Linked DNA regions of Homo sapiens: region 1 is linked to region 2. The links come from fine-mapping of genetic effects on gene expression. A gene starts in region 2. The other region holds a variant in brackets. All regions are shown on one strand. Distances are from middle to middle.

Region 1 (16,814 bases), 38 kb before region 2:
CATTTGATTATTCATTTATTCCATGATTCCTCAAGAGATATTCTATAGTGACTTCCTTGCATTGGGCGCTGGGGATGCTCACATTCTACTATAGATGTATCTTGGAAATATTTTCTAATAGAAAATAGAGAATTTAGGAAATAAAGTCGACGAGCTTTTTAATTGGTTGGGAGCTTTTTAAAAGTGGGCAAATGTGTATTGATTAAAAATCTTAAATCTATATTTAAGTTTTTAAATATGGATTTGAGTTTCTTAAAGTAGTCAAACCTGTTAACCTGTGTCCCTAAGAGATCTAAATTCGTATTTAAAATGAAGTTCAATTAGCTACATGTCTACAAGAAAAGGCATATATCACCCCTTATTCAGATGACTCTCATAAAAAAATTTACCTGAGTAGCATCATTGTAGTTCTCGATATCTCCACTTCCAGTTTTACATTTACCATCATTAAAATCCCATCCAGAATATGGGACTGCTGGAAAGTCCCTACTTCCAGGGTTGAAGTAACTTCCACAGGTACTGCTTGTTCCTGCACTCACAGCATTACCAGACATATGATTAATTACAGCATCCACATAAATACGAACCTAGAAAGCAAAGTTTCTACTTCAGTGTGACTTACAGAGAGGCAGAAATTTAAAGCATTATTGATTCAAGTTTATAGTATGTTAATAAAACTCCAAAATATTTCATGATATCTTATAACTATTTTCCTACAAGATCAAAAATCAACTGTGAAGAAGTAATGTGAACTAAACACCTACATGCCTTCTAGACACTTGGTCAAATATTTATAGTAATGGTAAATTGAGAGAACCAGAAACTACCATAAATAGGAGGAAATGCAAAAAGCCCATTTCGGGGAGACAAAACTCAGATGAGACTGGAAAGGTTACTGTTTTGGAAATTACAGTCGGTCACCAGGAGAAAGCCTGTACTCTCTACTAAGCTTTTGAAGACAAATAAGGGAGCTATTAGTCTCAAATTATGCTCCTCATTAAATAGAGAAGCTAGCTAGTCACCACGAAAAACCCAGGAATTATGGATGGAGATACAAGTCACCTAAAAATGATAGCAAATATTGTAACTGGAATTATAACTCTTAACCAGAAAACTCTTTCCAGGAAATATAGATAGGTATAAAAGTTAAAATTTGATGTTTTGCTTTAGAAGTAAATTCTGCTTTAAACTTGTTTCTTTGGTAGATAGAGAGCACATACACAAATATTTACAAAAGCTGAACATAAGGCAACGGTTAATTTTGAGTTTTAAAGTATGAAGTAAAATTAAAAAAATAAAATATGGAAAACTTTCTGCTGAAAAGGAGCAAGAAAGAAGAGAGAGAAATCATTTTCCTATCTGTTATTTTTCAAGGAAACTAGAATTCACTTACCCCAACATTGTTACATCTAGTCACCATGTTTCTAAATTCATCTTCATTTCCAGATCTTGTGCATAATTTATAGCTAACTGGTTGGTATCTTTCCCACCAAGGTCTGAAAGGGTTGTGAATTGCAACATTTTCATTTGGTGGAGAGACCTACAAATTAAACAGTCTTCATAACTACCAAATTCTTACTCTATATCATTGAATGTTCTAGAAACTAATCAATAATATAAAAAATTCTTGAATCTTGGTATATGCAGCTATCTCTTGAAAATATTAACAGCACATTGGAGGGCTCTTGTTGAAGAAAGATTATCTCAGAAACAAAATATAAAGTTGCCAAGAATACTACATTGTTTTTTCCTCAGAAAACTCTTACTTAGAATACTTACCTGTGAAGTAAAATGTTGCCTAAGCTTCACGGATAAGATCAGAATACTATTTACTACAAGCATAGTGAATTCTGCAATTGATACTATGAATCATACCCACCTGAACCCCTCCAAATCCCTTGGGAGCTAAATATCGCTCACATTCAAGAGCAATATCAACCCATCGCCATTCAAACAGATGAACAATAGATGTCCGTCCTTGTTGTGTATTTGGGGAATACTGAGCCCAGCAGAACCCAATGGTGAAAAGCAACAGAAAGAACTTCATTTTGCTTTGAAGTTGTCAGTGTCCTTTCCAGAAACTATTTATATTCCTGTAAGAAGCACATTTTACAAAGTAAATATTAGCATGAATAAATACTTGAGGGCAAACTGTTTACTCATAATCTGAAAAGGATTATCAATAATAATCCTAACAGGAGAAGAACATTAAAAAGTCTCTCATGGAAATCATCTAAATGACCTTTTAGAAATTAATGTTTTTTTGGTTCTGGCAGCACTTTTATTTTTCCATACACAATGATATATTGCTGGGGCCTAATGTTCTCACGTAACAGTAGAAAACCAAAATTTGTTGTCATCTCTTTAAAGATCGAGAATTGCATACAAAAAAACTTTACATAAATTAAAAGGATGAATACATTTATAGGTATAAATGCAAACCGCTTCCAACTCAAGGCGAGTAACAGCCCATGGTGTTCTGGCAGACAACAGAAGCTAAGAAAGGAAACTGGGTCCTATGGCTTGGACTTTCCAACCCTGACAGACCGACAGGACAGAAACAACTGGTTAAGGAGCCCTTACCAGCCTGTAGACAAATCCCAGAACACTCAGTCCTGACACATTAATACCCTGCACAGATCAGAGACTGCTGGCCATGCAGACTCACCAAGCCAGACTTGTCTTCCACAAGTACGTTTTTAGCCATGAAGTGACCAAGCCACATGTACTAAAGACTGAAATCAAAGATATGTACAGATACCAAGGGGAACAGTTAACTTGAATACAATGTCAAAATCAGGAACAAGTTCTACAATCCAGTGCTGATATCAGATACAAGCTTTAAAGACAACTTATTTTCTAAGGCTTATTCCAGTTTGGTGAGGCTAGCATGAGGTGTATGCATTTGCCAGGGGCAAATTTTTACTTCTGAATTAACCCATGAAGCAATTGCTAGCCATCTGCTCACAGTCCATTTAGAAGCATTTGCGGTGGACGATGGAGGGGGCCAAGTCATTGTACTATTGCTTGCTAATCCACATCTGCTGGAAGGCTGACAGTGAGGCCAGGATGGAGCCGCTGATCCACACGGAGTACTTGTGCTCTGGGGATGCGATCATCTTGATCTTCATGGTGCTAGGTGCCCGGGTGGTGATCTCCTTCTGCATCCTGTCGGTGATGCCTGGGTACATGTTGCCACCAGATAGCACCGTGTTGGCCTACAGGTCTTTGCGGATGTCCACGTCACACTTCATGATGGAGTTGAAGATGGTCTGGGTGGATGCCACAAGATTCCATGTCCAGGAAGGAAGGCTGGAACAGCGTCTCGGGACACTGCAACCTCATTGCCGATGGTGATGACATGGCCATCAGGCAGCTCATATCTCTTCTCCAGGGAGGAGGAGGATGTGGCAGTGGCCATCTACTGCTCAAAGTCCAGGGCAACATAGCACAGTTTCTCCTTGACGTAGTGTCTGATCTCCCGCTCGGCAGTGGTGCTGAAGCTATAGCCAACCTTGGTAAGGATCTTCATGAGGTAGTTGGTCAGGTCCTGGCCAGCCAGGTCCAGATGCAGAATGGTGTCAGGGAGGGCGTAGCCCTTATAGATGGGCACCATGTGGGTGACCCCATCTCCAAAGCCCATGACAATGCCAGTGTGCAACCACAGGTGTAGAGGGACAGCCTAGCCTGGATGGCCACGTACATGGCCAGGGTGTTGAAGGTATCAAACATGATCTGAGTCATCTTCTCTCTGTTGGCCTTGAGGTTCAGGGGGTCCTCGGTCAGCAGCACCAGGTGCTCCTCCAAGGCCATGTGCAGTCCCTTGTAGAAGGTGTGATGCCAGATCTTCTCTATGTCATCCCAGTTGGTCATGATACCATGCTTAATGGGGGTACTTCAGGGTCAGGATACTGTGCTTGCTCTCAGCCATGTAGCCCACATAGGAGTCCCTCTGGCCCATGCCCACCATCATGCCCTGGTGCCGGGGGCACCGATGATGGAAGGAAACATGGCTGGGGGTTGTCGTCCCCAGCAAAGCCAGCTTTGCACATGCTGGAGCCATTGTCAATCACCAGTACGGCAATCTCTTCTTCCATTGCGACTGGTGGAGGAGTGGGACAGTGGAGCGGCAGGACAACATGGTGCATGGGCTGGCAGAGGTGACTGGTTTTTTCTTACTGATAAAATCTTAACCTTTTTAAACCTCTGGCAGTGTACACACACACACACACACACACACACACACACACACAAACCCACATAAATAAGGACAGTAAATATATATTTAAACACATAAGGACTGTATTTATATATATATATACACAAACACACACATATCTACACAGTCCTTATGTGTGTGTGTGTATGTATATATAGACTCTGTGTGTGTGTGCGTGTGTGTATATATGTATATATGTATGGTTTGGCTGTGTCCCCACCCAAATCTCATCTTGAATGTAGTTCCCATAACCCCCATGTGTTATGAGAGGGACCTGGTAGGAGGTAACTGAAATTGAATCATGGGGGCGGTAATCCCATACAGATGTTTTCATGATAGTGAGTGAGTTCTCCCAAGACCTCATGGTTGCATAAGGGGCTTTTCCCCCTTTTGCTCAGAATTTCTCCTTCCTGCCATCAAGTGAAGAAGGATGGGTTTGCTTCCCCTTCCACCATGATTGTACATTTCCTGAGGCTTCCTCAGTCATGTGGAACTGTGAGTGGATTGAATCTTTTTCCTTTATATATTACTCAGTCTTGGACACTTCTTTATAGCAGCATGAGAACAAACATATATATATACACACACATACATACAAACATATATATATACACAAACATATATATATTCCATATATATATAATGCAGTGTATATATATATAGTCTATATAGTCTTTATATATGTGTGTATATATATAAATCCTAATAACAAATAAGGACTGTCTTTTGTTTGTGATATCCGTCACTAATAGAAAATAACAATTGAAGCCAACTGAATTCTCAAAATATTTAACTATTTTCAAATTTTTGTCATGTTTCCATTTCAAACAGACATATTATGTGATATTTCCATTTTTAAAATCAGCCCTGTTTCCCATCCTTAATTCAAAGTTTTGGTTATTTAAATTTCTCCATTAATGATTTAAGAAAACGTTTAAAATCTCAAAGCCCATGAATTGGAGAAACTAACTTTTTTCCCCTTGATCAACTCATGTGCTTAATATAGTGCATATAGTAGTAGGATTGGTGGTGGTGGTGGTTTTCTCCCTGTAGGCAAATATTTCTTGTACCTGACAAAATGCTAAATAAATAAATTTGTGTAATTTTTCCTTCTTAATGTAATGTAAGTGAAATGCTATGAAAGGGAGTAATAGTACAGGTAGGAAAAACTTCATCCATCCATTCAACAAGTGTTAAGTGTGTGTCTGCTTTTTGCTAAGCACTGTAGGTGATGTTCAGGAGACAATTATGAAAAAGACAGGTTTCTGTTCTCAGAGAACTTACATTCTAGTGGAAAGAAAAGAAAATATATTAGTAAATAACAGTAATAGCAACAGTACTAACAGTGATGATAAAAATAATTTCAGATAGCAATAAGAACTAGTATAAAATCATAAAATAGAAAGTGACTTTTCCATCAGGGTATTATAGACTGGATGGTAAGGGAAGACATCCCTTAAAAGAGTGACTTTATGATGTGATTTGAAGGATTAGAAGTGTCCAGTCATTTAGAGATCAGAGAAAGAGCAACAGATAGAGGAAAGAGCAAGAGTAATGTCCCAAGAAAGGAAAAAGCTAGTACATAAGACACATTAAAAAGAAATCAGTGTGGCTAGAGCACATGTGATAAAGGGTGGGATAAAATGAGATGAGATCAGAGAGGTAGGCCAGATCATGTAGAACCTTGTAGAACATGAAGAAAGAGAGAGCTGTTAAGGCTGTGACATGGGGAACTGAAAGACTAATAAACTTTAAAAGAAAATCACCCTGCTTCTGGGAAGAAACCAGATTATAGGAGGATAAGAGTGGAAAGGGGTAGATGTTAGAAGACTTTTACAGTGGTCCAGGAAAGAGGTGAGTGGCTTGGACTAGGGCATAGACAAGGTATATTTCAGAGGTAAACAGGCAGTAGATTTATGAATAGATTAGAGCTGAAGGATGAGGAAAAATATTAAAGATATAGGTATTTGGGGATGATACCATTTTTTAACATGAGACAAAATGAGGAAGTACCAGCTTTGACGAAGGGTATCAGGAGAGCTGTGGATCTTAACTATTCCACTGTCGATCCTGATGCTGCCCTTTGGTCCTTCCGCCAGCCAATCCTGTGAACTCTGTTCATTGCAAAACTAGAAGTTCCTCATATTTTATATGAAATATCATACCTTCATGAATTTCCTAGTGGTTTTGTTTCCCATATCATCCCCTTCCACATCCAACTTAGTGTGGAAGCAACTACTTTTCCTTCCACATTAAGTTGAAACCACAACTTTATGAAGCTTACCCTCATATTCTCAAGCATAGTTAGCTCCTCTGTTGTATGAAAGCTTCTTAATTTATATGACATTAAGCTATATTTGACTTCTTTTGTAAGTATATTATAATTAACAATTTACTTGTCTGTCATTCTGGACCAAGCTTCTTGAAGTTAGACTTCATATCTAGTATTTCCAAATCCTAGTAAAATGATTGACATTGTCTTATGTGCTCAATAAATGGCTATAACATGAAAACTCTAGGTTCCAGGTATTGTGCAAAACATTGGCATAACATGGGTTATGTCCTCATTGATTTTCTAAAAATCAATGAACTCTATATTAGAAATTGTGCAATAAACTTGACTCTAATCCTAGCAAAAGTGTTGTACACATGTTGGAACTAAGGCCCAGACAGACTGGGTAAATTGTCCAGGCTCATATGGTAAGTGACAAAGACAGGATTTGATAATAAGTCTGATTGCAAGTCAACATTCTCTGTACTACACTAATGTTTCTCCTAGAATTCTAGAGTTGTGATGTCTAATATGGTAGCCACTAGAAACAATTGGCTACTAACCAGTTGAAATGTATGTGGTTTCAACAGAGATGAGTAGTAAGTGTAAAACACACTCGGATAGTGTGAAAATAAAAAGTAAAAAAATATATTTTTATGATGTTTACAGGTTGAAATAACATACTGTGATACATTAGGCTAAACAGAATTTACCATTAATATTAATTTCCCTAGTGTCTTTTGGTTTCTTTTAATGCAGTTAGTAAAATACGTTAAATTACATATATGATTTACATTCTATTTGTATTAGACAGAGCTGTTCTAGAAGTTATGTTCAGTTAGAGAAGGGATATGTCCATACACAAAAACAAACAATAAAGTGAAAGATATGAACATAG[T/C]TTTAAGAGGGTTACGATTAAGTGCTTCAGGATTTAATTGGTAGGAAAAGTTCTTTCTGACAGATGGGAATAAGGGGAGATAAAATTGACTTGAAGAATGGGTTTGACATCAATGAAAAGAGATAGGTAAAATTGCTTTTAAGTAAGAAAAACATGTAGAAGAGCAAGGAAAATGGCAAGAAGTCAATACAGTGTTTTAGAAACAAGTCAAGTGTGAGGGAGACATGACAGTTAAATTTGGAAAGGTATATTGGGGACACTCAAAATCAGGGAGAAGAAAAAAGTACTTACCTCAGAAGGTTTTTTGGTTGTTTTAAACAGGAAAGTAATAATAAAAACTTTTAATTATATCAGATGGACCAGAAAACAAAGAGATAGGAACATTAGTAAGCAGAGCAGTGACAGAAATCTGAATTAGGATTACAGCAGTAAGAATGAAAATTAGGGAAGTGTGATAGTTATATTAAAGGGCATCCAATGAATGACACTTCCCAGTATCCATACCTATATAAAGTCTCTCTCTACAAAGACTATGGAATTAGCTTGATATTTGTTTTATCCGATGGGATATCAGCAAACAAGACACAAGCAAAGTTTGACTGGGGTTTGCAGAAGGGAGTTTGATCTCTTGGAACTCTGAGATCATACATTGTGTTGTGAGCCTACCTGGGATGAAAGATCACTTGAAGTCTAGTTGTCCCTAGTCATTCCAACAACGTGAGTTGACTCGCCAGCTAATAGTAGTTGAGTGATGTGCCAGGAAAAAACATGGTGTATATAGTCAGCCCTCCATATCCATGGGTTCCACATCGCCAGATTCAACCAACTGTGGAAGAACATATTTTTAAAGAAGGATAGTTGCATCTGTACTGAACATATAGACTTTTCTGTCATTATTCCCTAAACAATGTAACTATCTGCATAGCATTTATATTACAGTAGATATTACATCTCTAGCAATATAGAGATGATTTAAAGTATACAGGAGGATGTGCATTGGTTATATGCAAATACTATGCTATTTTATATAAGGCACTTGAGCATCTGTAGATTTTGGTATCCATGGGAGGTCCTGGAACCAATCCCCCACAGATACTGGAGAGATGACTGCAAAAGGCTTGGTACTATCTGTGGTTTCAGGCACCTGCTGGGGGTCTTGGAACATATACCCCTGGAATAGAGGGGAAATGTTTATGTAAAACAGAGAGGGGAGATATAACAGACTTGGTGGAGACTGTACAGAAAATGGTGGTTAATCAGATATAAGAGAATAGAGAATATAAAGAGTCAAATGGGGACTCTGTGATTTAAACTTTGGGTGAATATTAGAATGGCAATGTCTTTATGACTGATAGTGCAATCTAAAGGCAGATTTGGTTTAGAGAAACCGATGAATATGGGGACATATTGAATTAGAGGTACCATTTTTAAAACAAATGGGTATATAAAAACAATTAAAAAAAGATATGAAGAAAGAAGCAGAGAATTGGTAGTTTTCAACAAAGCAATGACAGTCTAAGAAATGGAACAAAAAATACTTAACTGATTTAACACAGACACTGAACAGAACAGATGCTATCCCTAAGCAACTACTATACAGAGGGCAGTGTACACTGGCTGAATTATCAGGCCTGGAGAGTTGTACCCTTGAGGGCTGACAAAATACCAAAAAAGATATTGGATGAAGTCACCAAGCTTTATAAATGATGGGGTACAGGGAGTAGGAAGGAGATAATAAAGAGGTGCCTTCAAAGTAGCAAAGGGAGTTTTATTACCCGAGATGATTTTTAAAAGCAAATAGGGAAGGAAAATTTGCAGGGAGTACAACAAACTAACTGGATACGGGTGAGTATCAGAATTTAAATAGAAGACTGACTAGATAGTGATACAGGGCTGATGGTGTAAAGAGTTGACAGAGAAGAGGGGCACCATTTGAACTTCATGCTTGACTCAAGGTTCCAAATGTGAAAACGCAATTATTAGGAGTTAAGACAAACTATAAATCCTGACTTTTCCATTTATAACCTGTGTGATGCTGGAAAATAACTTCTCTAAATGTATCTATTAACTAGAAAAAGTAATGTTTACCTCATAGAGTTATTGTGATTAAACGAATAATGCAAATAAAGCTGTTATCCCAATGTATGGATATGGTAAAAGCTCAATATGGTTGATAATGTTATTTTTGTATTGATATTTTTACCTGGTCCTATTAAAAATCCTATCAACTCATACTGTCTTTCCGCCTTCGCTCTACTAACACTTGGCCATTCTGTCTTCCCATTCTACCCTTCTTAACTTCTAATACTTTCTACTTCTCAGAAGTATTTTCATTTCCAGTAAAGGAATGGACAGAGATGAAAAAGAATCACCAATATTTTCTACCTGCAATTTTTTCCTTCCTTCCCTCACAGTATTCTTCTTGCTTATTCGCTTAGGATTTCTGGCAGATCCATGGTAGTTTTGAAATATACTTTTCAACAATGCCAGATCAATGAACTCTGTTCTTGTAATAGCAAATCAGCATTTTTCACAATGCATTTGGAATGTTGGTAAAAAAAAAGGGATAATTTGCAGATATAATTTAGGGAATTTAGCACTGCATGAAAGGTAGAGTTAGACACACATATAATAAGCTTCTACTAAGAGTCAGGCATTATCATATATTTTCTCATTTGATCTTAATTTTCACCTCAAACAAGCAATCTGAAGAGCTATATACCCCATAGGAGAAGCATTAAAACAATTAAAGTATATTTATGTCTTCTGAAATAAAAATCTGCACAAACAATTCTTAGCATCTTCGGCATCAAAAACACAAAAATAAGGATTTAAAATAGTTGTTATATCTACTTTCTGAAATAGTTATTCTAAAAGAGTTATCCTTAGAGAAGCTATTCAGTTATTAGTAATATACGGCATTATTGCCCATATTTTGTACTTCCTAGAATGCTCTACAAAGAGAAAACTTCCCTTTACTCTAAAGCTCTAACGGTTACTATCATGTGCCAAATGACATATCTTGGGAATTCCCTAAGAATATGAAATAGGACATTTGATAATATCCTGACGACAAAGCAATAGTCACTAAAGATTTATATTTGGAGTGTCAAAACATATTCTCTCTTCTCATTTGGGCTCATATAAAAAATAAAATATATCCGGTATCAAGAATTAACTCAAAATTAGCCAGTTTCTGAGGGTCTCAAAAGTATTTTTTCAATCAATATCATATATGAGGTATCTATTTTGACATCCATAATATAAATGGCATTATAGGGAAACGGCTCTAGTGTAAACTCAGTATCCCTCTTGACACATCAAGTACCATAAATTTAATCATTTAGCTCAAAGCCTACTTAAATCACACCAAAGCCTTGACTTAAATAAAATGAAAGAGCTCTATTGTTAAGCAGAAAGTAGCAACTTCCAAATAACTTGTCTTTCTAGAGCTCCCTTTCTACTTATATAACTATCAGTTATTTACAAGTTCTTTCCCCCTATCCAAAGTAGCCTCACATTTATACCAGATATTATAGTTTTTTAACATGCAAATGAATTAACATTGACAAAAAAAAAAAAAAAAAAGACAAGTTATCTATTAATGTCATTCGTAGTTCTTAGCCTAGATGCCTTATAAATATCTTTGGAAGTAATTTAAGTGTGATTAAAAATTACAACTGAAATACCTTAATGTCACATTTATGAACTTGATCAAGTTAGTTGTTTCTCTTACTAAAAAATAAAGTCTTAATTCCTCTGAGTTTTGCAATAAATTAGGTACAATTTTCTCAAAATAGTAAACCTTCAACCACCAGCCCTTCCCCCAACAGTTTTCTGTTTTTCTTTTGAAAATAAAATAAGAAAGAAAATAAACCTGAACTCAGGATAAGTTGCAATGTAAAGGTTAGAGAAAAGAAAGCACAGATAATCAAGTTTGCCTAACAGATCTCTGAAATCAGAGAAACCTTTTGAGCCAAGGCTAAGACACATTTTCAATATAAATAGTACATTTTGTACTGCACAGCACTGAAACATGATTTGTCAACAAACTGAAAATAGATTGTGAAACTCTATATCAAATCATGTGACAGAAACCACTTATTTCAAGACAAAAAGTTGGAGGAGGACTTACATAATACTCAAAAAACATTAAAACAACTTACCACATTAACTTCTCTCAATCAGCAATCTCCCAAACCCACAGTTGAGTGTTTTACAATCATAAAATAAAAATCTCACAGTTCTGGTTTTGCTTTTTCTTCAGTTGGAAAAAAAATTGCTGAATTTAGAATCTTATAGATTTTCTATAACCTCTTACTTTCAATATGTGGCCCTAGAGTCCTACTCCAATTCTCCAAATCAGATTTGTACAAGGAATCTTCTCTGAACTCCAGTATTACAACAGGTTGATCACCACACTCCTGTTTCCTAAGCAAACCACTGTCTTCTCTCCTCTGCTCAGTTTGCTGCCCTGCCACCTCTTCTTACTACACTATATCTCGTCTGCTTTCTGTCTTCCTTCCTTTTTCTACAATATCCTCTCGCAATCTCTATTTCTTTTCCCTGAACCATTTATATTTATAATATATAGGGAATATATAGATAATAAACATATAGGGAATAAAATAATCTTAATAAAATAACCTTAAAAATAAAATAACCATATAAAATAAAATAACCTTAAAGACCCGATTGGCATAGGGCTGGGTTAAATTAGTTAAATGAGACTAGAATGTAAGCAGTGTCACTAAATCAAAAATTTAACTCTTTGAGACCAGCCTGGCCAACATAGCAAAACCCTGTCTCTACTAAAACTACAAAAATTAGCTGGGCATGGTATCTGGCACCTGTAATCCCAGCTACTTAGGAGGCAGAGGCAGGAGAATTGCTTGAACCCAGGAGGTGGAGGTTGCAGTGAGCCGAGACTGCGCCACTGCACTCCAGCCTGGGCAACAAGAATGAGACTCCGTCTCAAAACAAACAAAAAACCAAAAAAAAATTAACTCCATGCATCACCATCTACTAGATGCTTCACCATGTACATTTTTTTCTGTATGAACCTTAGAAAAAAATTAAAGTCTATGGATTTCATACTAGGTTCTCAATTAGGAAATGAAGATATTGTTGATAAATATAAAAATAAAATAACCACTAACAACATATAGTTACTATGTGCCATTTCTATGCATTATCACTTTTACTTATCACACACGCGTACCCTACATGATAGAAATATGATTATCCTCATTTTTAAAATGAGAAAAAAACACTAAAAAATTAAATAATGGGATTTATTAATGGTCAAATTGTAGTACATGTTGGGACTGAATTTCAAAGCCAAGAAGCCTAACTCCACAGTGAGCTCTTACCTACTAATCAGTCTTATATTCCCTTTCATTGGATTGTTAGAAAAATCAAATAAAATATTATATGAAAATATTTTAAAACCTGAGTTCTGCTTAATCTGATTAATTTTTAAAAGATTAACAGTAGAAAAAATTCTGCAAAAATAATGTCTTGGAGGATTAAAAATACAGAAGTAATTTCAAAAATAAAAACAACTGCAAACTGGAATAAAACAGTGTTCAAGTATTCTAAGGTCACATTATTGTCTTTGGCAATGGACATAGGCATTAACTTTGGACTGTGAGAATATGCATGGGTATAATCAGTGCTAATCATTAACAAAACAGAAAATGTGCCTAATTCCTGTGGTATAGGGTAAAAAAAATTCAATGTAAATTGATTAAATGTTTCTGCTAAATGCATTTTTAGACAGATTTTTTAAAAACAGATAGAAAAAAGGTAAAGGTAAAGCTAGAACCAAATAAATGATGTAAATTCTAACCAAAGGAAAGACAGTGAGGCTTTATTAGTATTGGACAAAGATCTAAGGCAAAATTAATACCACAGTAAAATGGTTGTACATTTATAATTAAAAATGTTTGACTCTCTGACTAGAAATTCAACAAATATATGTTTACTCACCTTATAACATGTTTAAAATTACTAAAGCAAAAATATTGACAGTACAATAATAGGGAAATCTACAATTATGAGAGAGTTTTAACAACCTTATTAAGAGCAGGCAGATTTCAACAAGTTTTAATTAACCTGACCAAATGCACATACGGAGAACACATTATTTTTTTAATTGTCTATATACAGTCAGAAGTTGAGTCTTTTAAAGGATTGAAATAAAAAAGAATATTCTAATTGGACTAAGATCATATAGTATGCACTTGTTAATATGAACATTTCCAAATATTTTGTTGTTATAAGAAGTGTTATAATGAACATCTGTATACATGTTTACACATAGGTAATTCTGTAGACTAAACGTAGTGAAACTTGAAGCACATTTTTATATTTTCATATTATGCAAAATTGCCCTTACAAACCTGTCAGTTTTTACTCTCTAGTAGCAATATATTATAGTACCTTTTGTCACACTCCCACCAAAAATATTATCGCTCTGATTTTTGCCTAATAGATTAAAAATGATTTGTGCTTTTCCCAATTACTAGCAAGACTGAACATCATTTCACATTTTTTGGCCTTTTGAGTTTTCTCTTGAAATTTGCTTCCTTTTTCCATCTTCTTTTGCTTTTATTATTTTTCTTATTGAATGTTTCCAGTTCTTATGTTATTATCGTTTGTCATGTATTGCAAATATATTTTCCTAATATATCACTGCTTTTTGAAGGCTTCCCAGTGTAAATCTAAGTAATCATGAATGCTGGTATGAATTAGGACAGTGCCAAAGGTATGCCTGTATTATTATTTTTTGTCCAACTACAGTCATGCATTGCTTAATGACAGGAGTATGTTCTGAAGAGAAAGCCCTTAGGTAATTAAGCCACTGTGCAAATGTCATAGAATGGACTTCCATAAACGTAGATGGCATAGCCTATTCCTCCTAGGCTACAAACCTGTAAGGCATGTTATTGTACTGAATATTATAGGCAACTGTAACACAGTGTACTTGTGTACCTAAATATATTTAAACATAGGAAACTTCCGATAAAAATATGGCATAATAAACTTAACTGGACCACCATCATATATGCGGTGCACGACTGTATTCACCATGCAAAAGGTTTTAAGTTTTAAAGTGATTATTTGTTTAACTACAGTGGTTCCTCGTCCCTCCATATCCATGAGGAATTGGTTCCAGGACCCACCATGGATACTTAAAGCAACAACTGCTCGAGTCTTTTATATACAATGTAGTATTTGCATGTAACTTTTACATCATCTCAGATTACTTATAATAACTAATGCAACGTAAATGCCATGTCAAAACTTGTTATATTATGTTGTTTACAAAATAATGACGAAAAAAACTCAATACATGTTCAGTATAGATGCAACCATCCTTTCTCTTGTCTTATCCTTAGATCTTGTTTAATAAGATTAAAGACTAAGTGGTAAGGAGGATGGGAAGAGAGACAGAGGAAAAATGTATTAATGACAGCTTTTTTTTTTTTTTTTTCAGTTGGGGTCTCCCTATGTCACCCAGGCTGGAGTGCAGAGATGCAATCACGGTTCACTGCAGCCTCAAATTCCTGAGCTTAAGTGGTCCTCCCTCCTCAGCCTCCCAAGTTGTTGGGATTACAAGCATGACTAATTATGCCCAGCAATGGTAGGTTTTTGTTGTTGTTGTTTACAAAGTTAAATGTCATCATTTTTTATACTGAAATATCTTTTAATACTTTTTTTTGAAATATTACTGATTATTTAGAACCCAAAGTCTGGACCATTGAACAAGTTCATTCCAATAGTCTCTTTCACTGTTAATATTCTCTGATCCTATGATTTATTCTTCTCTTGACTTTCTACATCCTAATGGAAATATGAAAATCAAAGAGCTTAAGGAAATGTTGTGGCTGTATCAATCAGGACAGAATAGGTTATTCTGCAGTAATAAAAGAAACTAAAATTTTTCAGTGGCTTACAATAACCAAGTTTCTCATGTTCAACTAGGATCAACAAAGGCACTCTTATTAGTCCCTTTGTAATGTCACAAAAACTTCATTTTGACACATGCTTTAGCAATCGGGAACTCCCCAAAGTAAAACAATCTTTCTGCTCACATTTCACAGCCAAAACAAATCACATGGACATTCCCAAATTCAACAGGATGGGAGTATTTCATTTGCAGGGCGGATCACTAATATTTATGAACAATAGTATATTGCATATATGAGATCAGAAATAAAAACTAACAGGAAAAATAAAAGAATTTTCATTGGAGTGAACATTTGAAAAATAAGAAATGCGAGTTTAAATATATAAAGAAAAATACAATATATAGAGCTTCTCACCTCCATCCTTTCCTTCGATAGCAAGACATTCAATTTCTTCCAAGTTTGTATGATCATTTCTATGCATGTTTTTATGACTTACTTCATCTAATGTTCCCATAAATAACATATAATGGAATTTTATGTAGTTACCTTTTTCTAAGCTTTGAAAAGTTTCATAAAACTGCTCACATCTTCTTAAATTTTGGATATTCAAAGATCACGGTATACAAATACCATATTAAGTGCTATTTTATAATTTACAAAAAATTAAAATTTCTTATGTAAAATACTTTTTTTTTTTTTAATCTAACTCCATCACTGAAGCTGGAGTGCAGTGGCCCAATCTCGGCTCACTGCAACCTCCACCTTCGGGTTCAAATGATTCTCCTGCCTCAGCCTCCCGAGTAGCTGGGACCACAGGCATGAGCCACCATGCCCAGCAATTTTTTTTGTATTTTTAGTAGAGACGAGGTCTCATCGTGTTGGCCAGGCTGGTCTCAAAATCCTGACCTCACGTTGATCCACCTGCGTTGGCCTCCCAAAGTGCTGGGATTACAGCCGTGAGCCACTGCACCTGGCCTCTTTCTTAATTTCTAATTGATAACCTTTTAAATAGATACAACCACCTCAAGTCTTTATATATTAGTCACAGATGTTCCAGTCTTACTTGATATCCTGGCTTTTTCTTCATTGCTTAGACCTTGTGCATGTTGGGTACAGGGTATATATTTCCTGATGCTTATTCAATGTTTTGTGTGTATGTATGTATGTATGTATGTGTGTGTGTGTGTGTGTGTGCGCGCGCGCACGCTTTAAGATTTCCTATTAGCTTTTAAATGGACGCTCTATATACCGTTTGTTTTCAGAAAATATAGGGTGGGACATTTTGCAGCTTAAGTACTTGGGATGAGAACTCTATTCTTCTTGAAAATCATCAGTTGTATCTCTTAGGTGTCTGACACAGGGGGTTAGCTCACATATCTACTGAATAATCCTACTGAGGTCATTATTTGTTAGCATGAATTACTAAAGATAATTAAATGTAATAAAGTATCTTACAGTTGACACATTAAAGAGCTTTCCATTACTCACAAAAGGAAGTGCTGTCTTCTC
Region 2 (16,814 bases):
TGATAACAAACACACTGCTCAAATGATACAGTACTATTAGATTTACCTTGTTCCTAAAAGATCCAAAGTACATTTAAAAAGAAAAATAAGCTACTGCATTTCTTGGCAGAGGTTTATCTTGTAGCTCTGAACATCTTAATAGATGCTTTATCTGCACTGAATTCAGTGACAAACTCAACTCAAAATGTTTATTCAACATATTAAAAATATGCATGACATTAAATATCTTTGTTTTTAAAATTATCTTATTTGCAATAAGATATCTGTATATAACACAATATACAATAAGCAATAAGATATCTGTATATTACAATATATAATAAGCAAAAAGCAGTAAGATATCTGTACATCTGTATATAACACAGAACAAAAGCAAAAGAAAAGCAAACAAAAATGCTAACCCATGGTTTGGTGCAATTCCATTTTCTACTGTTAAATAACCAAGTTCTTTTTTTTCTTTATCATCTTCGACAGGGTCATCAGACCTGGGACATACAGAATCAAAGTTAATCTTATCTTTCCAAAGGGTGAAAAACTGCACACAGAAAAGATAAATTACCTTTTCAAACATGTCATTATAAAAACAGCTTCATTAAAAAAAAAAAAAAACTTTCAAGTATTTCTCAAGCAAACACCAATAAATGGGAAGGGAACTAAAATTAACTAAAAGTAACCTTCACTGAATCCTTTCTGTATTATTATTACATTGAGCACTACACATTTTCATATACTCTTCACAGCAAGACTATGAAGATGGCATAATTGTCACTGAACAAAAATAAAACTAAAGTTTACATGGTATAAAACAGTGGTAATCAAATGTCTTTAATGTGTGTCATAATCACTTGGAGAGTTTATTAAAACTCATAGACTTCTACAACATTTTCCCATCCCTTCCATCCCTCAGTTAAGTTTCTGATTCAGTAAGACTGGGTTAAAGCTCAAGGTTCTGTATTTTGATCAAGTTTACAGATGATACAGCTGATCTAGGGACCACACTTTGAGAACCACTAGTGTAAAGCAAATTTGTGAAGCTGTACTACGAAGAGTCACAGCCAGAAACAAAATGCCAGTCTTGATTTCATGACACTGTTATATCTCTGATACAAAGACTTCATACTAGTTATTTTCCCTCCATTGAAAGTTGAAGATGAATTCGTTTCAGCCCACTCCCTTGCCACTTCACAATGATTAACCCATAATATTAAATCTGGTTCCTAATGCACAATTAGCAGCAAAAATAAACATACTGTTTTACTGTACTAGGTTTAATGGAAAAATCTGTCATTCCTCTTCCAATTACTTGCTAGTCTGAAAACAATACAATAACTGTATAACTGATTTAAAAAAACACACACTTTAAAAATGTAACAAAAATGTATGATTTACTGATCTACATACCTTTTTTTTTTTTCAGAGCCTGAAGTGGGACATGGGGAGTGAACTCGATCTTGCTCTTTTGCAAATTCAACGACTAAAGTATGACCTAAAAGTTTCAGTTGATGGAGTCTTGTCAATGCCTTCAGTTAAAAGAACAAGAGTAAACATTTCACAATTGTACCAAAAATGATTCGTTAGAGACCAATTTTTATACTTTTTTTTTTTTTTGCTAATGCTGTAAACAGTTCCTTGACTATTTCCTAATTTATTTTTAATCTCAGGCTATCAAGCCTTTATTACTTATTAAAGGACTACTTCCTATAACTTAGGAAAATAAAAATCTAGCTAAATCCCACTTTATGCCAGCTCTGCTTATACCCAGGCAGCTGAAAATGGCTAGAAAACAAACTAACAAATTTCCCTGGCCTCACTTTCAATTTATAAAAACTACCACAAATCTCAGGGTGATTTTTAATTATGCCACAAAATTACTTATTACAATCTTAGTCTATTTTTTCCACCTATATCTCAGAGAGTATTTTGTACTTTCTCCTTGTTCCTTAACCTCACAATATTTTTCTTGTATTCCGTTAGCTTAGCACCTTGTTTTCTACTTTGAGACAACAGAATTGATGACATGAGAATATCAGACTCCCACTATAACCCCCCATCTACCAGCATATGCATGCTATCTGTTATCATCTATTAACTATCCACATGCCTATCTAAATCCAGCTGCTTAACTTATATACTAAATTCCATCCTCTCATCTCCTCAAGGGTCTTTACTTAGCTATGCTCTGGAATTGTGTGTGGTGAGGGGTGTGGAGGGTGATCTTATTTATACTGTTAATTTACTGTCCTCTATTGGATTATCCGTATCAGTATGAAAACATGCTCCTATTTCTCCCATCCTAAATTTGTATTATTAGTTTTGCAGTAAAACTCTGTACAAGCTATCTAAACCCTCTATCTACAACTCCTCTCTGCCTATTCAGTTTCAAACCTATTTCAATCAGGTTAATGCTTTAATAAGTTTACTGAGACTGCTTATCATAGACAACAAATTTTGCATTGTTGGGCTAATGATCAACTCCTAGTCTTCACTTGGTTGCATTTAACATAGTTAATCACTCCTTCCTGGATACATGTCATTCACTTGGCTTCAAGACTTCATACATTCTTAGTTTTCTTCCTAGCTCGCTGGTTTGTACTCCTCCATCTCTTTGACTTGTGCCTTCTCTCACGTTCTTAATGTTAGAATGCTCCAGAGCTCTTGTCCTGGTCTTCCTCTCTCTCTCAACATATTATGTTGGTGATTTAATCCAGCATCCGAACTTTAAATCTGTATGCTAATGATTCACTAATTTATAATTTCAGCACAGACTTCTGTCCTGAAGTCAAGGAACACATATTCAAATAATGGATAGCGCCCCATAGATATCTAACAAACATTTCAAATTCAACATTTCACTTAATCTTTCCCCCAGCCCCAAATGTGCTCCACCAGGAGCCATCTCTATTTCAGTTGATAGCAACTCCATTCTTCCAATTATTCAGGTCAAAAATCTTGTAATCATCCTTAATGCTTCTTTCCTACATTCCATATCCAAGTCATTAAGAAATCCTGTTTGCCTATACCATAAGGCCATAGTCATCAAAACAGCATGGTACTGGTATAAAAATAGGCACATAGACCAATGGAACAGAATAGAGAACACAGAAATAAACCCAAATACTTACAGGAAACTGATCTTCCAGAAAGCAAACAAAAACATAAAGTAGGGAAAAGACACCTTATTCAACAAATGGTGCTGGGATAATTGGCAAGTCGCATGTAGAAGAATGAAACTGGATCCTCATCTCTCACCTTATACAAAAATCAACTCAAGATGGATCAAGGACTTAAATCTAAGACCTGAAACCATAAAAATTCTAGAAGATAACATCAGAAAAACCCTTCTAGACATTGGCTTAGGCAAAGACGTCATGACCAAGAACCCAAAAGCAAATGCAACAAAAACAAAGATAAATAGATGGGACTTAATTAAACTAAAAAGCTTCTGCACAGCAAAAGAAACAATCAACAAACAGACAACCCATAGCGGGAGAAAATATTTGCAATCTATACATCCAAAAAAACCACTAATGTCCAGAATCTACAAGGAATCCAAACAAATCAGCAAGAAAAAAAACAATCCCATGGGCTAAGGACATGAATAGACAATTCTCAAAATAAGATACACAAATGGCCAACAAACATGAAAAACTGCTCAACATCACTAATGATCATGGAAATGCAAACCAAAATCATGAGGCAATACCTCCTTACTCCTGCAATAATGGTCATAATGAAAAAATCAAAACATAATAGATGTTGGCAGAATATGTGGTGAAAGTGACTTTCACACTGCTGGTGGTAATGTAAACTAGTACAGTAAGTATGAAAAATAGTGTGGAGATTCCTTAAAGAACTAAAAGTAGACCTACCATTTCATCCAGCAATCCCACTACTGAGTATCTACCCAGAGGACAATAAGTCATTATACAAAAAAGACAGTTGCACATGCACGTTTATAGCAGCACAATTTGCAATTGCAAAAATACGGAACCAGCCCAAATGCCCATCAATCAATGAGTGGATAAAGAAATTATGGTATATATATATATAACATGGAATACTACTCAGTCATAAAAAGGAACAAAATAATGGCATTTGCAGCAACCTAGATGGAATGGGAGACCATTATTCTAAGTGAAGTAACTCAGGAATCAAAAACCAAACATCGTATGTTCTCACTCCTAAGTAGGAGCTAAGCTATGAGGACCCAAAGGCATAAGAATGATACAATGGACTTTGAGGACTCAGGAGAAAGTGTTGGGAGTGGGGGTGAGGGATAAAAGACTTCACAATGGGCACAGTGTATATTGCTTGGGTGACAGGTACATCAAAATCTCAGAAATCACGACTAAAGAACTTATTCATGTAACTAAACACCACCTGTTCCCCCAAAACCTACTGGAATAAATACAGTAAGAAATCCTTGCTTCTACCTTCAAAATATATAAAGAATCTAATCACCGCTAACCACTACCATTGTGGTCAAGGCAACCATCAATTCTGGACTGAATTACCACAATATTTTAACGGATTTCCCTGTTTCTACCTTTCCCTCCCTTCAGTCTAGTCACAACAGCAAAAGCAATTCTTTGAAATACCAAGGTCACCCCCTTGCTCCAATGGCTCCCTATTTTACTGACAGCAATCTAAGTTCCTTACTATAATCTACATAATATAGATTCTATGACTTCTCTGACTTCAAATCCAATGATCACTCCCACTCCTGCTCCCACAGATCACTCCCACTATGTCTGCTCCAGTCACAGTGGCTTCCTTGAACAACGTGACAGGCATGGTCACATCCTAGAGCCCCTGTTCCAGCTGTTCCTCTAATTCAAAGGTACTTCTCCCAGAAATTTCATTAGCTAACTCCCTTCGCATCCTTCAAATTGTTGTTCAAATATAACCCTAACTACAGCCTGACCTCTCCCCACTTAGCACTCCTGATCTTATTGCTCTACTTGTCCTTTTTCCATAGCATTTATCATCTTCTAAAATATTAAAGTTTATTATTTATTGTCTGTCTCCCCTTTTGAGAATATGAACTATAATCATCTTTGTCTTCACATATAATCCCAAAACCTAAATCAGCATCTAGCACATAGTAGGTACTTAATATTTTTGAACACATGAAAGTACAAGCCTTAACCAGAGACCGGTTTTGTGCAAGACAATTTTTCCACAGGCTGGGGTGGGGGGTGGGGAGAAGATGGTTTCGAGATGAAACTGATTCATCTCGGATCATAAGGCATTAGTCAGATTCTCATTGAGAGCGCAACCTAGATCCCTTGCATGTGCAGTTCACAACAGGGGCCAAGGCACTGCTGATCTGACTGGAGGTGGAGCTCAGGCAGCCAGGCGGAGTCGCCCTGAATAGAGATAAAGCTTCCTCAGCCTGCCAGTCACCTCCTGCTGTGCGGCCCAGGTTCTAACAGGTGGTGGTTAGGTACCAGGCCGTGGCTGGGTACCAGTCTGTGTCCCAGGGTTTGAGGATCCCTGCCTTACATCATCATACAAAGTTAATTTTAAAATGTTTCAATAATTTTCAAGACCCTAAATGAACTTTAGACCTCTTTATTATCAGTGAAGCCTTGATTATCTGAAATGAAGGTCATCTAACCTGACTTACTCCAACTTTCTTCTTCTCAAATGGGTATCACATATGTTCTTATTTTCAAAGATTTATGGTTTTTCATTTTTAATGTTAACTCCTCCTACCTGACTCGGCTACTTACTCTATTCTTGAACATTTCTCCCTTTGTTTTCTTAATCTATCACTTTCCAATTAGGCCAAATGCTCTCTAGCCTAAAAGCCCTATCAATATTGCCGTTAACCTCTTACTGCTTCCTTTCACTACAGACATTTCCAAAGACAATGACTGGCTCCATGTCCTCTCCTCCAAGTTATTCTTGACCCTAAAACAATGCGTTTTTCATTACCATACTTTATTTACAATGTATTATGATATATTTTTAAAAATACTTTTTTTCTGAAAAAAAATTACCTACCATTATAAAAGTACATATTAATATAATATGAAAGCCCTCTGTAATCCTACTCTCAGAGAAAGATGTTTTTAACATTTTGGTGTATAGTTCTGCCATATTTTTTCTGTGTATATGCTAACATGTATACTATTAGTTTCAAAAAATCTGAGGTTACATCATATATAATGTTTCACAACTTTATTCATGTACTCTATCTGGGCTATCATTCCATATTAACACATACCATTTGACATCATTCTCAGACAGTTGCAGTCCAGTATATGGATATAATGTGATTTAAGGCTTCCCTTCCTTTTACCGATGAGAATTTGGGTCATTTCTATTGTTTCATGGCAAAAAGACTTTAATAGATGTGTTCATTCCTCATTTTGCATCATCACAGGATTTCATCTTCTTAAAACACACTTCTCTTTGCATCAGTGATAATTTCCTTTCTAGTTCTCCTACTTTAACTGCTCCTTCCCATTCTTCTCTCCTAGCTTATTATCCTTTGGGCAAACATATCTATTCACATGGTTGAAGAATCTTTCCATTCTTCACCTTGCCTCAGCTCTCATTAATATTTTTAAATATTTCCATAAAAGTAGCCCAATGACCCCTCCAAGTTAACAGATGACAAGTGAATTCATCCTATGCCTTTGCAAACATCCTCTGGATCCTCATGTCAGCTAATATAACAACCCAAATAACTCAATCCTCAATCTAAATATCCTGAACTATTCTCTCTCAACCCCTATATTATAAAACCTACAAACTCAATCTCTATTGAATATATATTTACTTCCCCCTTTGTCTTCTTACTGTCTTCTTCAGATAGTTATTCTTGCCTTGGCCATTATAACAGCCTTCCATTTGGTCTCCTACCTCTAATAATTCTGCACATCCAATCCATGATATGAACTATACCAGATATCTTTAACAGGCCTGATCATATTATGAGCCAGCTCAAAAGTATCAAGTGTCCACCTACTAAACCAAACTCAATACCTCTCTCCCAGACTCAAATCTATTTTTCAAGTTCCATTTCCATCTCAACCCTTAGCTCCTGCTCCACTTATAACTTCCAATGTCTCACAGCTTTATTTGGTGTTCTGCAAGCCCAGAAGGCCCATCTCCACTTGTTTCCTTCTGAAAAAATCCAATTAATCATTAGACTTCTAGCTAAAAGATCACCTCCTGTGAATGATTCCCTGGCATTATAAAGAAATGTATATTCTCCTTTTAACACTTGAAACATCTTACCTTGTAACAGTCACAGAGATATTTATCAATCTAAATCATTTAGAAATTGTTATTTTAATTACATACGCAGTTAGTTTTTCTTTATAGATAATCTACTAAAGGACTGGGCAAGATCTGCCAACTGACAAATCAAATGTAGTCTGTTGGGGAAACTGTTGGAATACAAACGCTTTTGCTTCTTAAAAACCACAGTTAAACATTATCTGAACCAAGATTGTATAAGAGGATCCTGTTGACAACTTTAATCGTCAAGAAAAAGTCATACCTTTATAGCTGCTTTTTCATTAGGGAATGTGGCAAAAGCTGTATGTTTCTGAAACAGAGTTAAGGTACAAATTACTTCCAATATAATTTCAGTTTCTCACAAAGAAATCTGACTTTTTACCAGTGGAGTAATGTGACATGTTAATAAAATCACGGGAAAGGATGAAAACTCAAGACCATTTAACTGATTACTAATTTCAGTCCAGTGGTTTTCAATACTTTTTGAGTCAGACTTGAGATGAAAGCTATGCAACCTCTATCATATAAAGACACACGTTTTACACATGCAAATAGTTCAAAAGACCAAAAGTTTAAAGACCTGTTCTACACAGAGGGTCACTTTTAACCAACTAAAAATTTATTTCCTTCATTTATGACAGATCTAAAGATTTTAAACTTTCCTCTATACATAACAATGCGTAGTTTAAAAACATTCACCAACAGAGAAATCGTTCTTCAAGGTGCATATTTCCTTTGTGCTTTATCTTTGTAATAATGTTCAATGGGAGAAGTCTATTTTTAAACATAAATTATACGGATTTTAAAAACCATCAGAAAAGAAACACAAATCAACAGTAAAAGAATCACTATGCTAAGGAAGAGCTCTGGTCAATGCTTATTAAAAGTTACTTTAATAATTATATCGCACATTCTAATTTTGTCTAATCTGATACACGATGACCTGATGTACTTAAATTGAGCCATATATAATTTTTTTTTTTTAATTTGCAGGCATAAGTGACATTTAAACTGATCAAAATTGGTCTTTCTTCTAATTCAGTAACTCTCAACTTGGGCTGCACATTAACATTAAAATCACCTAGGGAAACTTTAAAACCACTGAGTCTTGCACCATCGCTATTCCTATTTTAATGAAGAGAAATCTAAAATATCTTTGGATATAAAGCAAAACAAAGTAATTGTGTAAATTCCTACACAGGTACTCTTAACAGCCCTAAAAAATTGTTCCCTAAAAGATGTCATCGGGAAATTTTTATGAAAAGCCTCTTTTTCTAGTTGAAATTCTGCATTTAATTTACGCAAGTCACCAATGTAGCTTCTCCTCTATTTTAATGAACGATTTAACATTGGCTTATAAATGAAGTAGGACTTTAAAAAATCCCTTGATGCACATTTGTAAGAATACTCTTGAGTCCAGGAGAAATAACCCCAAATTCAAAAAAGTTGTGAGGCTCTCAGGATGGATCCGAAAACTCAATATAACTAAGCTAATTTCCATTCTTCTGCTTTGTCGTTCTCACTTGCCCTTTTCTGCAGTGCTATGACTAATCCAGACTCGAGCCGATTAAAACTCCACTTCGCAGAGCAGATATTTTGATAAAAAAGAGGTAGGATGGGGGAGCTCTCATCACACAAGTCCATCTTCCCCACTCGTTTCCATTTTACTCTTGTCAGCGCTCCCCCTCCCCGGTCACTTCCCAAATGCCTTCCCGGGAGACTCCGGAGGGGCGCGCCCTTACCAGTCGCCCCTTATCTGACAGGACCCGCACAGACTGAGCCCCGAAGTACTTCAGCAAGTCCTCTTTCTCCTCAGCAGTAAGCTCAGCCGGCAGGTGCCTGACCAGAAGGGTTCGGTCGCCCCGAGGCGGGGAAAGCGAGGAGGAGCTCGTGCATCCCCTTGATATCGCAAGCGGCTGCTCGGGAGCTGCCATTTTCCTTGGAGAAGCAAAAACAGAAATCGTGGGAAGAAGTCTCAGTCAAAATCGCGGCATCAACACAAGCTGGGAGAAATATTTTTTCCGCCTCGCGCTAAGGATTCTGGAAACCAGGAAATACCGAGAAAGAAAGTCACCTTCTCGCGAGAACTGCGCCACCGAAAAGCGGCAACCCTTCGAAGACTCTTCGGGGAAGGGCGCGGTGCTAATGATTTAAATTCCAGGGGTCTCCGGAAAGACTTACAAGCAAAAATTGGCCCAGAGATGTGCGAGGGTTAACACAAGTTGTCAATCAAAGAAGGAAACAGGAACCCCAGCCACTTCAGGGAAAGAAGGTTGACGCTCAAGGACAAGAGGACTCACGACTGCGCATGTGCGGGCTGGGACCGTCACAGGGCGGGGCGGGGCGCACGGCGGGGCGGGGCGCACGGCGGGGCGGGGCGCACGGCGGGGCGGGGCGCACGGCGGGGCGGGGCGCACGGCGGGGCGGGGCGCACGGCGGGGCGGGGCGCACGGCGGGGCGGGGCGCACGGCGGGGCGGGGCGCACGGCGGGGCGGGGCGCACGGCGGCGAGCGCTATCTGGAGCTGACCGTGCGGCTCTTAATCCCTGGCCTTGGGAAAGTGAATTGGCCTGAATAGCAAGGAGGAGAACTTGGGTGTGGAAATACCGGGTATGTTCTTACAGTATTTAGATGGTAAAATATAAAGCTAGCCAGTTATTCTGTCAACTCATTAGACACCATTGTAGGGAGGAGAACTCAGTTTAAGGGGCAAAACGTTGAGAGTTCAGACTTTTTTCTTGAATCAGTAGGCATTTAGCAGACGGATAGGCCCCTGCCAGGGTTCATTTCGCAGAAATGGCAGCCTCTAGGGAGAGGTAACCTAATAAATAAATTATTGCATGTGTGTGTATGTGTGTGTGTGTAGGGGTGTGTGTGTGTGTGTGTGTGTATGTGTGTGTGTGTGTAGGTGTAGGTACTTTTCTCCCTATTTTACAGCTGAGGACACTGATGTACAAAGAGGTTAAATCACACAGCTAGAAAGTGGAAGAACTAAGTTTTGACCCTTGGTGTTCTGACTGGGGGTCTACATTCTAATCCACTGTTCTGCCTAGATTCTGAATGGAGTGAGGCAGGGATCATCCCCGGAGGGTCAGGAATGTACCCCTCACCCCATACAGAGAGGGCCTTGAGGATTCTAAAGAGAGGTTTTATGCTAGATGTAGCTGCTACAGTCTGGAGAACCAGAGTTCCTCTTACAGTTCTTTTTGCCACTTAAATAAATGTTAGAGATACAGCAGTAAGCAGTATACCAGCAATCTGCTGTCATCCCGCATTGGTTGGGGAAAAGGAGAGAGACAGATATTAATGAAAACTAGAAGACAAACATGAGAAGAACCTTCCCCACACACCCACCAAAATATCAGATAGGTAGAGCCAGACCACGTAGACGCTGTAGATTTGTTAGGAGCCCTTTTTATTTGAGGAACATTTAGAAACTGACAAATTCTTTAAGTAGGTGTGTGTTGAGGGGAGAGAATCAAAGTTTAGGTATGAAAATTTCTCCGGTTGCAATGCAAAAAACAGAAGCAGAAAGACCAGTTGGACTACTGTAGAAGTCTGGAGAAAAACACTACCATAATAGTTTGGTGAAAGTGGACATGTAGAGAAGGAACTGGAATTGAGATACGTTTTAGAAGTAGTTGATAGGAACTTGCAGATGAAGAATAGTAAGCAAGGATAAATTCTGGATTTTTGGCTTAAGCTAGATATTATCCATCTGTAGATGATGATGCCATTTACTGAATGTGAGAAGATTGACCAAGTATAGCTAGGTTAGAAACTGTAGTGGGACATTGGGAATAGAGGAACATATATTAAGTTTAAGGTATCTATTCAGTATCCCTGTTTCAAGTAGGAAGTTGAATGTGTGTGTTTGGCATTCTTGGGAAAGGTTACCACGAGGTATGGCATCAACCTATATGGTATTTATATCTGAAGAATGACAAAGGGTATAGATAGAATTGTGCCCATAATGGAGTCATGGGACATGCAGATGTTGAGAAGTTGAGGCAAGGAAGAAGAAGAAGACAATCAATTCCTGCCCTCTCAATGCTTACTTTCTAAAATCAAGACAGAATAAATATGTAAATAAAGTTCTTTTCAGAGAATAATAAGTGCTTTGGAAAAAATAGGGTAGTGTTATAAACCGATTGGAGTGGTCATGCTATTTTAAACACTATCCTTCAGCGGCTTTTTTGTGTGTGTTCTTTGAAGACTTGTTTGGAGCTTCTAGCAAGGGAGCACTGCTACACGTATGCCCTTACAGAAAAATCATCCTCCTTTATGGGGGTAAGTCATCCTCCTCAGCCGAGTGGGCAGCTTTGGAAGAGACATATATGGGGCAGTTAGGAAGGAAGGGGAACCCAGCTAGTTAGCCAGATCAGCCAAATCAACTGTTGGGATCAGTTGGTGACAGGTGTCATGCAAAATGACCGTCACATCCTCCCTGTGACTCTTATGTTTAGTAAAATGTTCCAGACATAGTGCACATTCTGTAAATATCTATTCAATGAATGAATGCATGAAGGAATTCACTTTTATATTTACCACTGCCTCCTACGGTTAGGAATTACTACAGGGGCTATCAGGCAGAGTTTAATGGTCATTATCTACTGTAATTCAGGTATCATGACTGAGTGGAATAGTTACATGACAGAATTTTATTTTCTCTCTACTTAATTGCTTTTAGTTGTACTCAATGAAATCTACCTTATCCTTTCCTTGACAATATCTCAGGTAGAGGTCATAATTTTCTAGTCACTTTCAGTTGCTATCAGTACAGTTGGTTAGAGATGTCAAGTCCAAACTCCATTAAGGTGTCTCTTCTTACACTCCCCTCATATCAGGCTTGACCTAAAGGATTGCAGGAATATGTAATACACTCTAATCTTTTCTGTGTCTGAGTGTAGGTATGTGTGGTCGTATCTGAGAAGTACCTTTCTCATTCCCTCCTCTTTGTCTAGCCCAGAAGTTGCCAAACTTTTTCAGTTATTGGTAGCTTTATTGTCCCAGCAGTTTTTTCTAGCACCCCTTGATGCCACCTTATTTCCTATTCCACTCTGGTTTTCCAGGAAGCACTTGTTTTATATGAGAGCAACAGCCAAAAACCCAGCTTTTCAAATATATGACATTCTTAAAAGGAATTAAACAGTATCTAATGTTCAAATTGAGAAACATCTCAAGCTGGTAGTTCAGGTAGTGTCTGGTAAACAGTGAGTATTGCTATGTTTCCCTCAAATATTTAAAATATCCTATAGTACCTCTATAAGGTGGCAAGGGTACCTGGGGCACCTTAGCACAGTTTGAGAACTGTGAATTTAACTCATTTTCAGTCTTGATTTTCTATGTTGGGGAATGGGAGGCGGGAAAAGTAGTGGAGCTTGGGAGTGTCTGACTTCACTGAGCAATTGTTGGTTCTTTATCTCATTCTTATTCTCAGGGGTTTTGTGTGTTGATGGAGGTCCCCGCTAATGTGGTGGTTTTCTTGGGTTAATTTTCATCTTCATCAGTTCCTCCATGTTACTGAGTACCTTCTCAGACAGAATTACCTTTTTTGCTTCCTTTGGTTTATGTCCCTAGTTTTCCTCACTTGACCACATGGCTACTTGTACTTCCCTATTACATCTTCCCTTTTACCCCCAAACTCCCCATTTTTCCGCATGAAGACAGGAAAACTGCTGGGTCCTATCTCTGGCATGCTTTGGAGAACTACAATAGGGAGAAGGGTTGATCCCAATATTTGTCCTGGCTTCTAGCCAAAAGCATTCCCCTCACCCTTCATAGCCAAGCTTCTAAAGAGAGAGACATAATTATTCTTATTTCTTCATCTCCCATTCACTCCAAAGTGTGCTCCTGACTTCTGATCCCATCAGTCCACAAGGTAGTTCTTCTTAGGGTCACTAGTTACCTCCCAGTTACTAAATCTAATAGGCCTTTTCAGTTCTCATTTTAGCTTCTCAGCAATGCTTGGCATACTTGACCACTTCTTCGTTGAGACGCTATCTTCCCTTGGTTTCCAAAACACACCACTTCTCCTACTGTTCGATCTCACTTTCTCTCATTGCCTTACTCTAGTAAATCTTTGACTCCATGCTTTCTCCTATTTCCTGTCACCTTGAATCCTTCCCACTTTCATTCTTAGATGGTGACCTTGCTTCTTAATCTCATTTGGGGAAAAAAAGTGAACCAAGTTATAGAGGATTCCCATACCTATTAATCCTAACTGTATCTGTGAGTCTTGGTTAAGCTAACCTCTCTCGGGAAGTAAATCTCCTGCCTTCTCATGTACTTTACTGAGCCTTTCTCATCAGTGTATACAAATGCAATTATTTACCCTTTTGTTTAAAAAAGCCAAAAGCAAATAAAATAATTTTTAAAAACTCTCTTCTTTCCACTTTCCTCTTTGGCTACCATTCCATTTCTTTCTGTTAATAGCAGAACTCTTGGAAATGGTGGTTTATATTTGTTGTCTCCAATTTTCTTCTCCCATATTCTGTTTAGAATATTCCAATCAGATTTGTATCCCAATTGTTTTTCTGAAATTGCCCTTCTCGAGGTCATCAGTGACCTCTACACATTGCTAAATCCAGTGGTAATTTCTTAGATCTTATCCTACTTGATCTATAAGCATTGCTCACCAAACACAGTTGTTTACTCTGCTCTAAAAACAGTCAAACAAAAAACACCCTACAAACAACCAATAAACCAAACTCCCTTCATTTGGCTTGCTGAACACCAAACTTGCCAAGTTTTTCTCCTATCATTCTGATCACTCTCTTTGTTTCTTTTGCTGATTGCTCTTCATCTCCTTGACCTCCAAAGGCTGGAGTTTCCCATGCTCAATCTTTTCTCATTTTGCCCTACTTGTACTGGACAAGTCATCTCATTCAGTTTTATGGCTTTAAGAACCACACATTGATGACTACCAAATCATATCTTCAGCCTGAACCTCTTCTCTAAACTCCCAATCCATATATTGAACTGCTTACTTGACATTTTCTCAATGTTGTGTAATAAGCATCTCAAAACTAACAGGCCTAAAACTGAGCTCTTGATAGTATTCAAAACTTTTCTTTCAGTTTTTCCCATCTCAGTTACCTGTGACTCCTTTATATCTTTTATATCTCATGCCTTGACATTCAGCAAATTCCCTTTATCTTACCTTCAAATTATATTCAAAATTTGACTATTTTTCACTGTTCCCACTGTTTCTACCATCCTTGTCCAAGCAGCCATGATCTATCTGGAATATTGTCATAGCCTCATGGCTAGTCTCCTACTTTTGCCCTTTCTGTCTGGACGACACAGTAAGACTCAACAATTATTTCATATATTCCTTTCCATTTCCCAACTCTCTTGTTGTTAGTTGGGACTATGTGATTCATTTTGGTAGATGGGGTGTTAATGAAAGCAACATGTGTCAATTCCAGAGTATTGCATGGAAGATTGGGTATGAAAACAGTGATCATGTAGGCCACATATTGAGGTGATAGAACCTCAAGCTAAACATAGCCTAGAGTACCAACTCACCACATCAATGACAGCTCCCCTACAGAATAACTTCCCTCCCACCAAACTTTGCATAAGTAGTAAATAACTTTTTTCTCTTAAAGGTATTGATAGCTTAGGACTAGTTTTTACCATGAAAAGTCCATTTTAACATGATTAAAAATATATTGCTTCTTCAATATATTTTTATCACAGCAGCTAGAGTGATTCTGTTAAATCTTCAAAACTCTGCAGTAGCTTTCCCCCTCACTTAGAGTAAATGCTGAAGTTATTTTGATCTGTGAGAATTTACATGATCTAACTCCTCCAGTATATTATTTTTATGACTTCATCTATTCTTCCCCTCTTCTTTCCCTCTGCTATAAATACACTGACCTTCTGGCTGTGCTTGAACACTTCAGACCCATAACTAAGACCTTTGCCTTTACCATTCTCTCTTTCAGGGATGCTGTTCCTACAGATATCTGCATGCTTAGCTCCCTGACTTTCTTCAGATGCTTACATATGACTTTCTCATTAAATTCTTCATTGTCAGTCAACACCATCTCTGCCTCCTCTATTCTCTTCCCATACTGGCAAAGGAAACAAAAACAACAATAACAACAACAACAACAAAAAACCTGAACACTAGATTTTTCAGTGTTTTGGTTGTCACTGTGTAATAAGCCATCCAATTACTTAGTAACTTAAAACAAACATCATCAAAGTCTTTTCTTTTTTCCCAAGGTAGAATTCATGTCTTCATCCCATTTGTTATTGTAGAACTTTTCACCTCTGTTATAAAATTATCATAAATATATTTTATTATAAATAATTATGTACATAATTTCATTATTACTAATAAGCTCCTTGAAGACAGGAATTTCTATATTCGTCTGTATATCTTCCAAGCATTAACATAGTACCTTACAAATAGATTAATGATCATTGAATGTTAAAATATATATTAGTGAATATTTGACATATGTTTTAAAACATTTATCAGTGAATAAATTAATGTTATTATCAAGAAAATAAAAAACACTGCTGACAACCAGGGATTACATATTCAGTGGTTTGCATGATGACTTTAGGAAACCTGTCTAAAGATTTCTATGCAAAATGATCAGAAAGTTAAAATGTCAATATTATTTTTGTTATTTATTGATAGATTAGATTATGTGTGGATCTCACACATAGTTATTTGTAGACTTAGTCTCTGCCTTTAAATAACAAATGAACAGAGGCAGGATTTATGTGAACTTTTGGCTATTGCAGGGGTAATTAGCCTTTTCTTATGGGGTATAGCTTGCTTATGTCTTCTGTTCTGGGATGGAATCTAGAGAAGATAGGGAAATAGCACCCGAAAAATATTCCTGTTCTAAAATACTTTCTTAACTCCATTTACAATTTGGAATCCATTTGGATGGCACATTTTTTTTAATGTATGCAACCTGGAAGGCTATTTTTCTTAATATAAACCTATACATTTAAGTATTAGTTGATATGGTTTGTCTGTGTCCTCACCCAAATCTCATCTTGAATTGTAACTCCCACAATTCCCACATTTTGTGAGAGGAACCCGGTGGGAGGTAAAGGAATCATGGAGGCGAGTCTTTCCCATGCTGTTCTTGTGATAGTGAATAAGTCTCATGAGATCTGATGGTTTTTAAAAAAGTTTCCCTGCACTAGCACTCTCGCTTTGGCTACTGCTATTCATGTAAGATGTGACCTGCTCCTTGCTTTCCACTATGATTGTGGAGCCTCCCCAGCTATGTGGAACTGTAAGTCCATTAAACCTCTTTTTCTTCCCAGTATCAGGTATGTCTTTATCAGCAGCATGAAAACAGACTAATACATTAGTCAATCAAAAAATTAAAATGTACTAAACATTTCAGAAGATGCCTAGAGAAAATGTTTCACCTGATAAATGGTACTGTCATAAGTAGTTGTTTTTCTGTAATGTGACAATGCTAGATTATCTTCTCTTACGTAAAAACGTCAGAAAATACAGCTGGTACCAAAAAATTGGAAAAAGAAAGACAAATTAATAGAAAAATGTGTTTAAAGAAT

Direction of the effects. Alleles are on the strand shown, and positions count from the first base shown. SD is a standard deviation of normalised expression in the study named.
With allele T in place of C in region 1, the expression in skeletal muscle of the gene that starts at base 9,560 in region 2 is lower (small effect, 0.33 SD a copy in GTEx).

The links.
Region 1: its variant is fine-mapped to the expression of RNPC3 in skeletal muscle (GTEx, PIP above 0.99). The same link has a PIP of 0.9 or more in subcutaneous fat.

Annotation. Positions count from the first base shown.
Region 1 is chr1:103,556,836-103,573,649 of GRCh38, reverse strand. It overlaps AMY2B (amylase alpha 2B), which reads right to left and starts at 2,061. Exons shown (of 10, transcript NM_001387437.1): 1 at 1,880-2,061; 2 at 1,394-1,540; 3 at 390-587. The coding sequence starts at 2,047. It also overlaps the pseudogene ACTG1P4. RefSeq lists a silencer at 15,942-16,160. The variant T/C (reference allele first, on the strand shown) is at 7,390.
Region 2 is chr1:103,518,445-103,535,258 of GRCh38, reverse strand. It overlaps RNPC3 (RNA binding region (RNP1, RRM) containing 3), which reads right to left and starts at 9,560. Exons shown (of 15, transcript NM_017619.4): 1 at 8,997-9,560; 2 at 7,517-7,564; 3 at 1,402-1,520; 4 at 402-485. The coding sequence starts at 9,188. RNPC3-DT (RNPC3 divergent transcript) reads left to right here and starts at 9,751. Exons shown (of 4, transcript NR_168321.1): 1 at 9,751-9,863. It also overlaps the pseudogene RN7SKP285. RefSeq lists an enhancer at 9,109-9,348 and a silencer at 9,669-9,768.